Linked DNA regions of Homo sapiens. The protein of the gene in region 2 interacts with the protein of the main gene of each other region in a pairwise test. Each region holds a gene or a part of one and is shown on either strand. Other genes may lie near its edges.

What was found.
Region 1: the proteins of ZBTB7B (region 2) and ZBTB5 interact in binary tests that used the Homo sapiens proteins (3 or more experiments, as listed by UniProt).

The regions. Positions count from the first base shown.
Region 1 is NC_000009.12:37,455,429-37,462,459, reverse strand, and holds part of ZBTB5 (zinc finger and BTB domain-containing protein 5), read left to right. Parts: intron 1-7,031. UniProt on the Homo sapiens protein: May be involved in transcriptional regulation.
Region 2 is NC_000001.11:154,997,813-155,005,801, forward strand, and holds the start of ZBTB7B (zinc finger and BTB domain-containing protein 7B), read left to right. Parts: upstream 1-4,989; 5' UTR 4,990-5,030; coding exon of another isoform or gene 5,031-5,131; intron 5,132-7,989. UniProt on the Homo sapiens protein: Transcription regulator that acts as a key regulator of lineage commitment of immature T-cell precursors. Exerts distinct biological functions in the mammary epithelial cells and T cells in a tissue-specific manner.

The sequences.
Region 1 (7,031 bases), on a different chromosome or scaffold from region 2:
AGAGGAAAGCATGCCAAATGGGAACACAGGTTCTCAATCTGGTCCGTGGATTTGACTTGTAGCTTGGCTTTCAAGCTTTTAAACTGTCTTCGGCTTGGAGGTGGGGTTTCACTGGGGATGTGCCCCTGTCTGCCTAGGCATTTGTCTGTCTCCTGCCTCTATCATAGTAGTCATTGGCAGACAGTTTTCCTTCCTTGAAGACAGGATACCATAAGTAAGCATTATGCCATAGCTTAATTGGCAGTTTTTTTCCTAGTGTTACATGAAATAATGCATTTTATAATCACAGACATCTTAGATTTAATGAAATTTGGTAAAATTAATAGAATTTTAGCTCAGGTGGCACACACCTGTAGTCCCAACTACTTGGGAGTCTGAGGCAGGAGGATCACTTGAGTTCAAACCAGCCCAGGCAACATAGTAAAATCCTGGCTGCCTATCCCCCATAAAGAGACTTTTGTACCCAACTAATTCCTTGTAATTGTAACCAATAAATTTTCCTAATTCGTTTTCCTGCTCTGGAAAATGTTTGTTACTGAAAAGAAGCCTATCGAGCGTGATATTTTTCCTTATGTAAATGGAAATTAACAAATAAAATGTTCATTTTACAAATTTTAAAGGATGATTAAGTGATAGGTCTACTTTTTGGAAATTATACTTGGTAATCTGTTACTTTGTATGGTAACAGGTTTACAAATGCCTTTATTCCTAATTTACTTTTTTTTTTGAGACAGGGTCTCACTCTGTCACCCAGGCTTGAGTGCAATGGCATAATCTGATCTCGGGTCACTGCAACCTCCGCCTCCTGGGTTCAAATGATTCTTGTGTCTCAGCCTCCTGAGTAGCTGGGACTACAGCTCGTGCCACCATGCCCGACTAATTTTTGTACTTTTTGGTAGAGACAGGGTTTCGCCATGTTGGCCAGGCTGGTCTTGAACTCCTGACCTCAGGTGATCCGACTGCCTTGGCCTCCCAAAGTGCGTGATTACAGGCATGAGAGCCACTGCACCTGGCTGATTGCCATTTTCTTAAGTTTAAAATGTTTAGGGTGAGTTGCTCCCCTTTTTTTCTATGCATGATATTGTTGACATGGTATAATTAATTTTTCAGTACATCTTAGTCAATTATAATTTAAAATCCACTCAACCATCTTCCTCTAAAAATACAAGGCTTTCACCTTTATAGTCCTTATGGTTTAGTCTTTTTTGCGAAGAGGATTTGAGGAAGGAAGACCAGGAAAACAAAATCCAGTGTTTGGGCATTTGGTTGTGGGAGGAGCCCAGAAATGCTACAAAAATCTAAACACATTTAAGTTACTTAGATTGTACTTATTTTGAATAGATGATCAAAAGCAACTCTGCAGGTCAAGTGAAGGTCACTTGCTGAGCATTATTGATTTGATAAATGATTGAGAAGTGAAGGCATATACTGCTTTGAAAGTAAACTAGGTGTAAGAAATGGATTAAGTCCATGTTCATCTTCTCTGTTGGAAAGGCACCATAATAATAGTGTCTCCAAAGCTTTGTCATAGTTTTCATCTTGATAAAAGTTTAGTTTTTTTTTTTCTTTCTACTTTGTTCTGTTTTGCTTTTGAGATAGGGTCTTGCTCTGTCACCTGGGCTGGAGTGTAGTGGGATGGTCATAACTCACTGCAGCCCCAAACTCCTGGGCTCAAGCAACCCTCCCCCACCCAGCCTCCCAAGTAGCTGGGACTACAGGCATGCACCACCACGCCCAGCTAATTTTTGTATTTTTTGTGGAGGTGGGGGTCTCCCTATGTTTTCCAGGCTGGTCTTAGACTCCTGGACTCAAGCATTTCTCCCACCTTGGCCTCCCAACATGTTGAGATTATAGGCGTGAGCCACCATGCCCAGCACCCAGCTAATTAAAAAAAAATTTTTTTGTAGAGAAAAGGTTTTGCTATGTTAACCAAGCAGGTCTCAAATGAGCCTCCCGCTTCAGCCTCCCAAAGTACTGGGATTACAGGTGTGAGCCCCGCATCTGGCCTAATTTTTTTGGGGGGGGAGTGTTCACTCTTATTGCCCAGGCTGGATCCAGCGCAATGGCGCGATCTTGGCTCACTGCAACCTCCACCTCCCGGGTTCAAGCGATTCTCCTGCCTCAGCCCCCGAGTAGCTGGGATTACAGGCATGCACCACCATGCCCGGCTAATTTTTTATTTTTGGCAGAGACAGGGTTTCTCCATGTTGGTCAGGCTAGTTTCGAACTTCCGACCTCAGTTGATCCACCCGCCTCGGCCTCCCAAAGTGCTGGGATTACAGGCGTGAGCCACTGTGCCTAGCTGGACTAATTTTTTTCATTAAGAAAGAAGTTTCTTGGCCAGGCCCAGCATTTTGGGAGGCTGAGGTAGGCAGATCACAAGGTCAGTAGCTTGAGACTAGCCTGGCTAATATGATGAAACCCAGTCTTTACTAAAAATTAAAAAAAATGGCCTGGCGCAGTGGCTCACGCCTGTAATCCCAGCACTTTGGGAGGCCGAGACGGACAGATCATGAGGTCAGGAGATCGAGACCATCCTGACTAACAAGGTGAAACCCCGTCTCTACTAAAAATACAAAAAATTAGCCAGGTGTGGTGGCGGGCGCCCGTAGTCCCAGCTACTTGGGAGGCTAAGGCAGGAGAATGGCATGAACCCGGGAGGCAGAGCTTGCAGTGAGCCGAGATCGCACCACTGCACTCCAGCCTGGGCAACAGAGCAAGACTCATTTCAAAAAAAAAAAAAAAAATTAGCTGGGCATGGTGGTGCACGCCTGTAATCCCAGCTATTCGGGAGGCTGAGGCAGGAGGATTGCTTGAACTGGAGGTTGCAGTGAGCTGAGATTGTGCCACTGCACTCCAGCCTGGGTAACAGAGTGAGACTCTGCCTGAAAAAAAAAAAAAAGTTTCTTGATCTGTCAGGGGTAAAAGACATGTTTAAAAGTTGTTTATGCTACACATCAGTTGGGATTGGAAAGAAAAGAAAACTTTTTTTTTTTTTTGAGATAGAGTTTTGCTCTTGTTGCCCAGACTGGAGTACAGTGGTGCGATCTTGGCTCACTGCAACCTCTGCCTCCCAGGTTCAAGCGATTCTTCTGCCTCAGCCTCCCGAGTAGCTGGGATTACAGGCATGTGTCACCACGCCCCACCAATTTTTTGTATTTTTAGTAGAGACGGCTTTTCTCCATGTTGGTCAGGCTGGTCTCAAACTCCTGACCTCAGGTGATCCACCTGCCTTGGCCTCCCAAAGTGCTGGGAGTACAGGCTGAGAAGCAGGGGCTGGCATGCCCATGCCCTGTTTTACATTTTTTGTAAATCTCTTTAATATGTAGTTTAATAGAAGACAGCTGGATTCCATTAAATGCTTCTGCATTCATTTTGCCGTGATACACTATTTTGATTAAAATATACCAAAAAACTCCAGCATCACACAAATATGTAGTTGGAAAGGGAGGATTATTTCAGTAGATTTTTCAGATAATTTTGGATATTCTTACTCTGATACTGTACCAAAACTCCACAAGTGGTATTTTCTTAAGTGATTAGTGCAATGTGGAATCTGAAATTATGTCAATGAACTTTTCATATTCTGTTGCATTAAAATACATTAGCTTATGTTTTGTACCTTGAATGAATTTTTACCCATACCTTGTTTTATAGCATTATTGTTACATGGCTACATGGTCATTTGGAAAATACTGATTTCAGAGTTATGCAGATCTTCCAAACGTTGACTCATTTATTATACAATGTAAAAAAATCACATTTCATTAATATCACCAATGATCTGTCAGAAGAATTTGAGCATGTGGGAAGCTGTCAAGCTCACAGTGACAGATACAAGTTTTCCAAAATACTAATTTTCACCTGAATTCTCAAACTTTTTTATTGGCAATAAGTAGTACTAAGTTATCTTATTTAAAATAACAGGCTTGTTTCATTCATTTTTTCATTCATTTTCAAGAAAATGGTAAATACTTCTAAATAACCATAGTTTGTCATTCGTTCTTTCAAGTAAAAATAGTGTCCCATGAGAAAAGCAATTAGTTGAGCCACCTCAAAAACTGCACAAGTGCTTTTTCTTGAGGCAACTTGTATTTCAGAATGCAGGAGGAAAACTTCAGGTGTACTTCCCATTTTATCACACATATTGAAAACAGGTACTCAAGAGTTGAGACTTAATAACAGATGTAGGGAAGGGGAGGCTGGGTCTCCATTGGAGTGAGCATTTGGTTAGTAGTAGCTGTGTTCAGCACAGATGTTTGGCATTCTGACCTGATTGTTCCTGCTGCCTAGCTTAATTTCTTCCCAGTTCAATCTTACGTATCCAGCCTTCCCATCAATTCCATGATCAAACTAATAGCCTTTCAGTAAATTACTTTTATGTTTAGGATCAATTTTTGTTGCTGCAACCAATGACTCTGGCTGATGTGCTGCTTAAACTTAAGAAAAAAACCCTAAAATACTTTTTAAGAAAGTAATCTCAAAAGTGATGATAGCCTTTAGTTCAAAAGTATGTGCCTCATGGTTAACCTTTCTGATGACTTGTAATTATTAACATCAGTTATGAGCAGTCACTATCCAATACCTACCTTTCTAGCCATACTATTTTCCAGCCAAATCGAATACATTGCTTTACCCACCTCAACCCCTTCTCCACCTTTACCTCTGTCTAGGGGTTTGTCCAAATCCAACCAAGACCTAGCTCTGTTGTCAACGCTACCATGAAGCTAGAAATAACCTTTGCCTTCTCCAAACCATTGAGAGGTTCTTTCACCTCTTATGTGGCACTTAGTGCCTTCCACTTTGTAATATCGTTATTCATGTATATCTTATTTCCACTAAATACCTGTGACAGTTAGTACTGTCCCATACAAATCTATGCTCCACAGCGCTTAACCTTGAACAAGTAAGCACTTTAAAACATTAGATGATGCTGGCATGGTGGCTCACACTTGTAATCTCAGCACTTTGGGAGGCCAAGGTAGGAGGAATACCTGAGCCCAGGAGTTCGAGACCAGCCAGAGCAACATAGTGAGACCCGTCTCTACAAAGAATAAAAAATTAGCTGGGCATGGTGACGTGCCTGTAGTACCAGTATTTGGGAGGCTGTGGTGGGAGAGTCACTTGAGCTAGGGAAGTGGAGGCTACAGTGAGCTGTGATTGCACCACCACACTCCAGCCTGGGTGGCAAAGCAAGACTCTGTCTCAAAAACAAAACAAAACAAAAAACATATTACATGAATGAACTTGTATACAAAAAATACACAAGTACCTTTATGGGCTGTTGAGGTCCCTTGAGCTGTATACTACCTAGCTCCAAGCTGCTGGGCCTCTTTTCCCCCTTAGTGGGTCAGCTGTCTCTTTCTGCAGCTATCAGCTTAACTTCATTTAAGCAGCCACTCCTTGCTCTCATTCTGGAGTTGCTGCTTCAGTTAGTTAGGGAACTAGAAAAACTTGAATTTTGTTTCGAACAAAAGACTGTGTGAGGGCTTAAGGGACTTTCCTATGAGAAAATCTTTCATCCATAGTCTTTGATCTTTATTTTGGATATTCTGAGACTTTTTCTTCTGGTTTTTGGCTGATTTTAGAGATAGTTGTGATTCTCAGAAAAGTGATTTTTGGGTAATACATTATACTTCATCCATATATAGCAAAAGTTTATTCAGCAAATAATTTACTGAGTATTTTATGTCAGGCACTTTGAGAGAGAGAAAATACAGTTCCTGCCCTCAATAAGCTGTTTTAGTAGAAAAAGCATTTGAGCTTGTACTAGGAACCTAAGTAGGGCACTAATACCTTTTCTTATTCAAACTGAGTTACAGAGCTCTAGGTCAATTCATCCCTAGGGATTTTGGCCTGGAAAACAAGGTGGCAATGTGGAGAGAATTGGAGAGTTAGGTGAGATGGTCAGGGCTTCCAGCTCGCCTTCCTCAGTCATGCTCATCTTTAGTCACTAGTGGAATTTTCCTGTTTTATAGAACTAATCTGTTCAGTTTCTGAGCCAACCCTGACAGAGCAGAACCAGAGATATTATGACATTAGTCATGCTGACAGGTCTGGTTTCTTGGGGTTAACCCAGGCATCATTGTGCCCACCTAGTTCCAGCCTTCCCCTACTCCCACTTTGCTGGTCAAATTAGAACAATGGATGGATGTTCCAGTACTCCGCTCTGTCTGACTTGGAGCCCTGTCAAAATTCCTAGCCTGGGCCAGGTGGGTGGGTGGCTCACGGCTGTAATCCCAGCACTTTGGGAGGCTGAGGCAGGTGGATTGATTGAGCCCAGGAGTTTGAAACCAGCCTGGGCAACATGGCAAAACCCCCTATCTACAAAAAATACAAAAATTAGCCAGGCATGGTGACACGCACCTGTAGTCCCAGCTACCCAGGAGGCTGAGGTGGGAGGATCACCTTGAGCCTGGGAGGTCAAGGCTGCAGTGAACCGTGATCAGGCCACTGTACTCCAGCCTGAGTGAGAGAGTGAGATCCTGCCTCAAAAAAAGAAAAAAAAAAAAATCCTAGCCTGCACTTCCGGAGCCTGTGGTAGGAGGATTGCTTGAGCGCTGGAGTTCAAAAGCAGCCTGGGCATATTGAGACCCCACCTGTATTTAAAAAAAAAAAATCCTAGCCTACTTGAGTGGGTCCTTGCTTTGTTCTGCTCTCTGACTTTTGTTTTCATCTATATCGTCTCTACAAGTGGAGGAAATGTTCTGTCTAGTTATTTTTCTGCTGATGAAATGGGAGAGTTCTCTGAACCCCCCTCGCAGGACGTGTGACAATGATGTGGCTCGTCTGTTTGGCTGCCACCACTGCTAAAACCCTTTACAGGAGGAGGAGCACAGAGACAGGCAGGGGCAGGAGCTGGGGCAAGCTCTTTTAGGCTCTGGCCCCACGGTGGCATCTAGGGGTGGGTGCCTGCAGCTCCCGAAGCCCCATTGGGCATGCTACAGTGCTCTTTTAGCTTGCCATATGCAGATGGGTTAAGTGTTAACCAGCTCAGTACCTTCTTGGTATTTGGGTTCTTGTCCAGCATC
Region 2 (7,989 bases):
AGGCCCAAAGAGGTGAAATGATTCGCCCAAGAACATACACAGCACACTGAGGTAAAGGAGTCATTTAGCGAACCCAGATTTTCAGATCCCCAACTCACGGCTTCTCCTAATGAGCCTGCCTTCCTCTTCTGAGCTGGTGTTTGCATGGAGATGGTGGCCAAAGTGGCCTGGAGGCAGGGCCATGCAAACAAAAGCATGGAGGGTACCACCTCCATGCACCCGCTCCATGCCACTTCCCACCTCAGCCCTAAGCTCCCTGTTCTCAGCCCATTTGGAGGTTTCAGGTGCAGCCCTTTCACCTAATCCACACAGCCAAGAGATCTTTCCTGGCCCATGGCTCCCCACTCTGTGGCTGTTCCCCCACAAGTATCTCTCCCCGACTAGGGCAACTCAGGTTTTGAGTGTCCAAATTACTCCCTCAGGAACTCAAGTGGAGTAAGGTGGGAGGGAGGTGAAGGAGACAGGGTACCAAGATATTAGGTTGGTGCAAAAGTAATTGCGGCCTTTGCCATTAAAACCTCACCTACCCCTCGGTGCCCTGGTGCCCTCTAATGGTCACAGGGGGTGGGGGAATGGGTGGAGTAGGAATGGAGACAGGAGGGACCAGCTGGATGTGACCCTCAAGTACAACAGCGAGAGGAGAAGCCTGATATCCAGGATTCCCGGCGGATTACATCGGATACAGGACCCTCGTTGGCATGCAAGGAACAGTTGGAGGAGAGGGGTCACGGCCCAAGGGTCTGAGGAGCGGCAGGCAATAAACTGGATATCATAGCAATAATCTGGCGGCGGGGAGGGGTGGGTGGGTGGGGATGTCCCACGTTTTCCCAACACCAAGAGGCCGGCAAAAAGGGGTGTGTGGCAATCATTTCACTGGCAGCGCCAGAGCGCAGACCCATCCCCAAGGGCATAGGCTTTTTTTTTTTTTTTTTTTTTTAAAGACGGGGTTTGGCTCTTGTTGCCCAGGCTGGAGTGCAATGGCGCGATCTCGGCTCACCGCAACCTCCGCCTCCCAGGTTCAGGCAATTCTGCTTCAGCCTCCTGAGTAGCTGGGACTACAGGCGTGTGCCACCACGACTGGCTAATTTTTGTATTTTTACTAGAGACAGGGTTTCACCATGTTGGTTAGGCTGGTCTCGAACTCCTGACCTCAGGTGTTCCACCCGCCTCTGCCTCCCAAAGTGTTGAGATTACAGGCGAGAGCCACCGCGCCCGGCATGGGCATAGGCTCTTATTTGCATCATATTTACATCTGTCTTGCATGTGAGTTATTTCCCTCCACCCAACTTTCTCAGTTACTCTCAGACTCTAGAGTGTTCGCCAGCCTTGGAGCGTACCCGTTCCTCCAGCCATTCTTCGGCCTCAGTTCCTTTCCATCATTCGCCCTCAGGCCTTCGCCTACCCCAGCTTCAAAGAAGCGACCGTAACCTCCTAGCTGGCTGGGTTCGAGAAGCCGGGGACCTGCGCCTCCTGGTGGCTGATCGGAAGGAGGCTGAGTGCAGAGGGGTTGTCTTGCCTTCTCTGGGACGTGGAGTTTTGGAAACTGTTCCCCTGAGCTTCCTGAAGCTAAATTTGCCTCCCCCGGCCTTGGGGGGCGCAGAGATCCCGGCGGCGATTAGCGCTGCGCGGCAGCCGGCTCCAACCCAGAGGCCCGGAATAGGCGCGGAGTTATAAATAGTGCCACCCGCAGGTGTTGGGGGGAGTCGGCGGGAGGGGGGTACCCCTGGCGGCCACGGCCCCTTCAGGTGGGTTGGGCGGTCGCGGTGGGAGCGCTGGGGGGCGGGGGGCGTGGGGGGTCTGCGGTCTGAGCGCCCCCAGCGGTTTCCTGGGCGGCGGGTTTTTCGAGGGAAGCGGAGGCAGCGGAGGATGGGGGGGAGCAGCGGAGAAGAGGTGGGCGCCTGGCGCATGCTGACGCTCCGCTTGCAGCTCAGCCCCCCACATTCCGAAACAGGCCCCCAGACCCACTCACGCAGGACCCCGCCCAGGCAAAGCCTCGCCTTTCTTAACACCTGAAGGCCTCATTCCCCCAGGTTCTGCAAGCATCTAACTTCTATGCTTCTACCCTTCGGCGCACGTGGCCCGGCCAGTCCGCGCACCTGGCCGTCATTCCGAGTCGCTGTCCCCAGCCCCAGGTATTCAGTCCTCCCACTCGGGGCTTTCATTCCTCTCTTAGGGTAAACACTTCCTTCTCTGGGTATTTGTCCAACTCGTGCTACTCTCCCCAAATTTAAGGTCTAGCTGGTCACCTAAAAATTTAAGTCTTAACATGCGGATCTGGGACGCTCTCCTATCCCCAGGCGGCCCCTGCAGGCCCCTCACTTGCCCTCCAGCTCCCAGTTCCAGTCTGGGCCTAGTGGCGGGGCGGGGGCGGCCGGCCCCTGGGGCCCAGCAGGGGTTTCATGGGAGGGGGCGGGGTCCCCAGTCAGCGTTTCTCTGCCGCCGCTGTTTCAGTCGTTTGGCGTGGTTAGGGGTTGGGGTAAGAGGGAATTTCAAGTAGGGGTTCCCCGCTCCGATTTCTGAGTAAGGAGGGGAGCTATTTGCACCAGGAGAAAAAGAGAGACAAGGGAGGGTGGGCGTCACTGAGGAACTAACTGCGGGTTCCAGGACCATTGGGAATGAGGTGAGGAGTGGCAATCTAGCCGCAGAAAGATCAGTCATGTTCAGCCAGACGCAGAACGCGACCCTCAAACATGGGGGAAGTTGGGCGAGGCGAGCCTGAGGCACTGGGCACCTTTCGAGTTTCTGTACCCAAAGGCTGGTGCCAGGGAGCCCGCCCTTCTATTGCCTCTGGAAGCCCTGGCTCTGCCCTCCCCGGGCCACGTTCCCACCCCCCCCGCCCCCCGCCCCCTGCCCCCCGCCCCCTTTCCTTGGCTATCCTCCTTCCTCCCCAAAGCAGCCCCCTCTCCATTTCACTTGTGGCACTGCCGCCTAGCCCCTAGCACAGCCCTTCACCAGGCCTGCACGACCCAGACGGCTGGAGTAGGAAGGGGAAAACCCCGGCCTGGACGGCTCCGGGCCCCTCCGGACCAGGATCTGTCCGGCGGGGCTGAGAAGAAAACCCGGAGCAGTGATCAGCCTCGCGACCCAAGGGGGTCAGGGACGATAGGAAAACCCGGAGCGGATTACTCGAGCCAGAGCGCCCCATGCCTGCCGCTACCTCCTCCTTCCTATAGCCCCCCTAATTCTCCAGTGAGATAATGTCTGGGGTGGGGGGCTGTTTGGTTTGGCCTGAGCCCTCAGGGGCGCCTCACACTTTCCGCCCCTGGCTGGGGCGCAGGGCAGCGGCCCCGAGGCTGAGTCACGGCCCGGCGCGGAGAGGGAGAGAGGGAGAAAGAGGGAGGGAGGGACCTGGACTCCGCCCCTCGTGCGCGGGGATCCCGGGTCAGCCCGGGTGAGGGCCAGGGCCCCCCTGGCGCCGCCCATTGTGGTCCAACAGGTTGAGCTGGTGTCCCGAGAAGCCACCTGCTGGAAAGGGAGGGAGGCCCCCTGCGGAGGGGGGTTGGGAGGGGAAAGCGAGTCCGACCCGGTTCGGCCTGGCTTGTCGCAGGGGAGCCAAACCTGGCCCTAGGTAGCCGGATTTGATTCCATTTGACACTAGTGGGAGGGGCCCTTTGGGGTACGCAGCTCCGCAGGCTCAGTCAGAAACATCCTTCACCCGCTACCTTTCTCAGTTGGGGGACTCCTAAGTATTTATCCCGGTCCTCCCCAAAACCTACACATACCACACATCCCAAAACATCCAGGCACCCCTCGCCACCTGGGTCTCTCAGCGAATTCATGTCAAGCTATCCCTCCTCGGTGGAGACTCAGTTTCTCCACTTAGGGAACCCGCGGGATGGAGGTGGGGAGCAAAAGCGTCGGCGCGCCCCCTCCCCCTTCGCAGACTGGGCCCCTCCCCTCCGACAATGCCAAGGCCGCAGCGGGCACTGGCGACAGCACAGAGGCTGCTTGCCTGGGGCGCCCTTCCCTCCCCGCGGGGCACCGTCACGCGTGGGGAGGGACGCAGGGCGCCCGCAGGCTCAACTCCCCGGCTCCCTCCGAGAGGGGGTGGGGCGTAGGGGCCGGAGCCGAAGGCCTGGTGGCTCCCCCTCCCCCTCCCTTCTAGGTCCCTGACCTGATTACAGCCCCTCACGGGACCCCCTCCCTCAAGACCCTAAGTCCCCAATTCACCCCCACCCAGCCTATCCCTAACCTCTCATACCCTTCCCTCCTGAGGTCCTGACCCTACAGAAGCCCCTCTTGAAGGAGAGGGAGCCCCTGTAGGGGGTGCTCGATTCCCTGGCCGCTGCGGACACTGCCCCCTCCCCCCTCCTCTCCAGGTTCCAGGCCAGCCCCTCGGCTCCGCCCCCTCCCTGGACGAACGCAAGGCGAGACCTACTGGAGATGAGCGGGTATTCAGGCCAATGAGCGGACAGGGCGGTGGCGTGCAGGGGGCGGGCAGAGCAGCAGCAAAGGGCTGGATGGGGGCCGGGGGCGGAGTTTGAGTTAAGGTGGACTGGGAGAGATAGGGGCAGGAGAAAGGGGGGGGAGAGAGGGACCGCGGCAGGTGAAGGGAGACAGAGAGAAGGAAAGAAGGAGGGAAAGGAGGAGGGTGGGAAAGGCTAGGAGAGCTAAGTAAGAGTTTGGAGAAGGGGGCAAAAAAGGAGGGAGGGACCCATCTGCGCTCTGCAGGGACTGGCTGGACGAAGGGGTTGAAGTTTATGTCCTTATTGGGCGGAGGGAGGGGGCCTGGGGGGGCGGGTGAAAAACCAGGAAGTGACAGAGGGTGTTTCTAAGTGTTGGGGGGGGGGAGTTTGGGGGGTGGCAGGGGCGGGGGGAGGGAGGGGAGGGATGGGGGGAAAGCAAGCTGGAGGACAGGTGAGACAGCAGGACAGGTGAGGCGGGCCCTGAGGGGGGGGCGGGTGGGAGCCAGGTGAATGTACGGCTCTTGGCGGCCGAGGGGGGGCGGGCGGCAGGAGGAGGCAGAGGGCGGCGGAGGAGGAGCCCCCCAGCAGCGAGCGGCGAGCAACTGACCGCGGCCTTCTGACCAGGACCGGAGCAGGGCCCCAAGCCCCCGGGCCTGGTGGGGGACGCGCTTCTTCCCACACTGTGAGCCTCAGCAGCTCCAGCCAGCGGACCCGACGGCTGAGAGGTGAGTGTACCCCACTTTTGTCTCCTGGCTCGGGGTTCACTAGGCTCGAGACTACTGCAGTGTCCTTCGTCCGTCCTGTAAGTGGGACCCCCAGATACACACGCATGCAGATCACATTCCCACCACTCCCCTTCCCTGTGCTTTCCCAACACCCCGGGTCTCTGGAATTGGTTTTAACTGAGATGAAAGACAGAGAAGGAACTGCGGATGCCCCCCAACCCTAGGCGGAGGGTCCCCAGAAAGTTTATCTGCACTTCTCCTGGGATCAGACAGACAGACGGCTTCGGGATGGAGAGGGGGTGAGGCGACGCTGAGCGTTCCCCCAGTCTCCTTCGTGACTTTAGGGGGAGACCCCAGACCGGACTGAGTTGAGGGAATGGAAACGCTGACGGACTCTAACTAGGACAACGCGCACCCCCCCCCCACCCCGCGCCCCCTGGCGCGGTGGATTGGCCCCAGGCCAGTTGCATGGGGGTTGGGGGGGCGCAGGAGGAGCCGCGGCTTGGGGGAAAGTTACCGGCTGGACTATTCGGTTTCTTGCGCTTCCAGAGCCGCGCTCTCTCCAGCGGTAGTGGGGCTCAGCAACAACCTCTGAACCGACATAGAACGACCGCTCTCTTCCCTGCCCCTCAATCCCACTCCCTTCCTTCAGGCTCCAGTCCCGCCGCTACCTTTTCCACGCCAGCTCATGACCACAGAACCCAAGAGCGAGGGCGGGTGACTAGGAAGAATTCTCCTACCTACTACCCGTCCCCCCACCGGCGCCGGCGCACCTGCCCCAGCCCAGAGTGGGGGTCGCTACTGTGTTGTTGTAGAACCTACAGAGTGCGCCTGGCAGAAGGCTGCCATTCAAAGGGGTGGGGGGCGCTGCTTTCAATTTCCAGCTTTCTCTCCCTCCTCCCACCCCATCCCAAGTAAGAGAGCGACGTGTCCCGGCCAGAGCGAGGTGGGGGCGGGAGTGGGGGGGCGGCGTGGGCAGCGGGTTGTGCCCGGACACGTGCCTGCCCAGGCGCCCCGGCCCTGCTGGTGTTTAGAGAGAGGGCGGGTCCCCTGCCCCCCGCCCCGCACAACCCCCACGTATCAAAGGGCGGCTGAGACATGGTGAGACCTCGGGGCGCCCTGGGGGGCAGGGGGGCGGGGAGCCTGGGTCCGGAGCAGGGGAGGGGCAGAGGCGCCGGTGCTAGCTGACCCACAGGAAACGAGCGCTGCTGACCTAGTTTGGGACACCGGAAGTGGGTGCTGGGGAGAGGGGGAGACCGGCAGGCTGTCCAGGCTTCCGGGCCAGGTGGAGGGTGTTCTTGAATTGACCCCCGCCCGAATGCCTTGGAGACCCCTAGCTGCAGCCGAGAATGGGAATGAGTCAGCGCAGCTATTCCCCCTTCCCCCAACTTATTCCTGGAGGAGGGAGACCGCTTATCAGGGACGGGGGAACCAGATTGGGCTGTGAGGGGTTAAAGCAGGATGGGAACTGTCTGGTCCCTAAGGGAGTATGTGTGAGTGTGGGGATGAGGCCTGGAGGATTATGGGGTTGCCTCCTGCTGCCCCACACACACCAACTGGTTTGGTCACCCCTGTACCCGCCTGGCACTGCTGGGAGAGCTGGCATGGAGTGGACATCAGGTTGGGGAGGAGAGAGTGGGCATAAGGAGTGTTGTGCTGCGCTAGAGAGGGACATATGTGTGACTATGTCTGGATGATAGTTAGTGTTCCTCCTTAGTGGTAACTGGGGAGAAGGGTAGGGGGCTCCCCCTGGAGCAGCTGATGAAACAAGGAGAAATCTCTGTCAGTGCCTCTGTCCCTGGCCCCAGGGACCCCAGCTCCCCCAGCGTGCCTCTGTTACATGGTTGCTGTGGGCACAACACAACCTGCTGGCACCCCCAGACACTGTCCCCTCCCTTGGGTACCACACACCCCCAGCCCTGGCACAGGGGTCAAAAAGGGGTTAATACCACCAGAATGGGGCTCTGGGGAAGAAAGAAGGCAGTGCCCACTAGGCTCAGGTGTCAAGGAGACAGGCTTGCTCTAATGGGACTCTCATCACTACTCAGTTCTGGCTGATGTAGACCCCAGTGTCTGGAAGACAGGTGCTGTCCCCTTCTTCTTCCCCATGGTGCCCCCTGGCACCCAGGGCCCCCAGCTCCTCCTTGGCCTAGTGCCTGCCCAGGGAGGGTGCGGCGGGCAGCGGGGGCTGGGCTAACAATGCACCATCAGGCCCTTTGTGTGCCTGCACTTGGCACCCTGGGGAAGGGTGGGGGAGGGGGCCCAGCAGGCATGGGGGGCGGAGCGCTCTGGGGTGGGGACAGTGAAGGCTGGGGGAGAGAAGCAAATGAAAGCAGGTGGGGAGGAAAGGGAAGTAGGTCAGATAGGGTGCCAGCCCCCCATTCCAAGCCAAGGCTGAGAGAACCAGCCCCTGATCCTATGGCTGCCTGGATGGCATCAGACTGAGGGACAGCCTAGGACTGGGCATTTGGGGTCAGAAGTCACTGCCCAGGGGACTGCTCAGATGGAGAAGGTTTGGCCTGGTACTGCCCCCTTCTTAATGGCTGAGAGACCCAATTCTTCTGGCCCAAGACCAAGGCCCCAAGATGAGTAGTGAATGGGCTCCAGGCAGGGCACTGCCCTCTGACAGAAGCCTCTGGGCCTGCTGCGGGGCTTCCTGCCTCTGCCCCGCTTGGCTCCCTGACCTTCCTGAGAGTTAAGACTGCCCTGACACCAGGCCTTAGGGCCTATGCCTGTTTTGGCCTAGGGCGGGAGAGAACAGTGGGGGAGGAAGGTGGGGACAGGCAGATGGATAGGACCCTGGCATGGGGTGTGCCCGCCCTGGCCTCTTCCCCCTCCTTGTGCTGAGTAAACTCGTG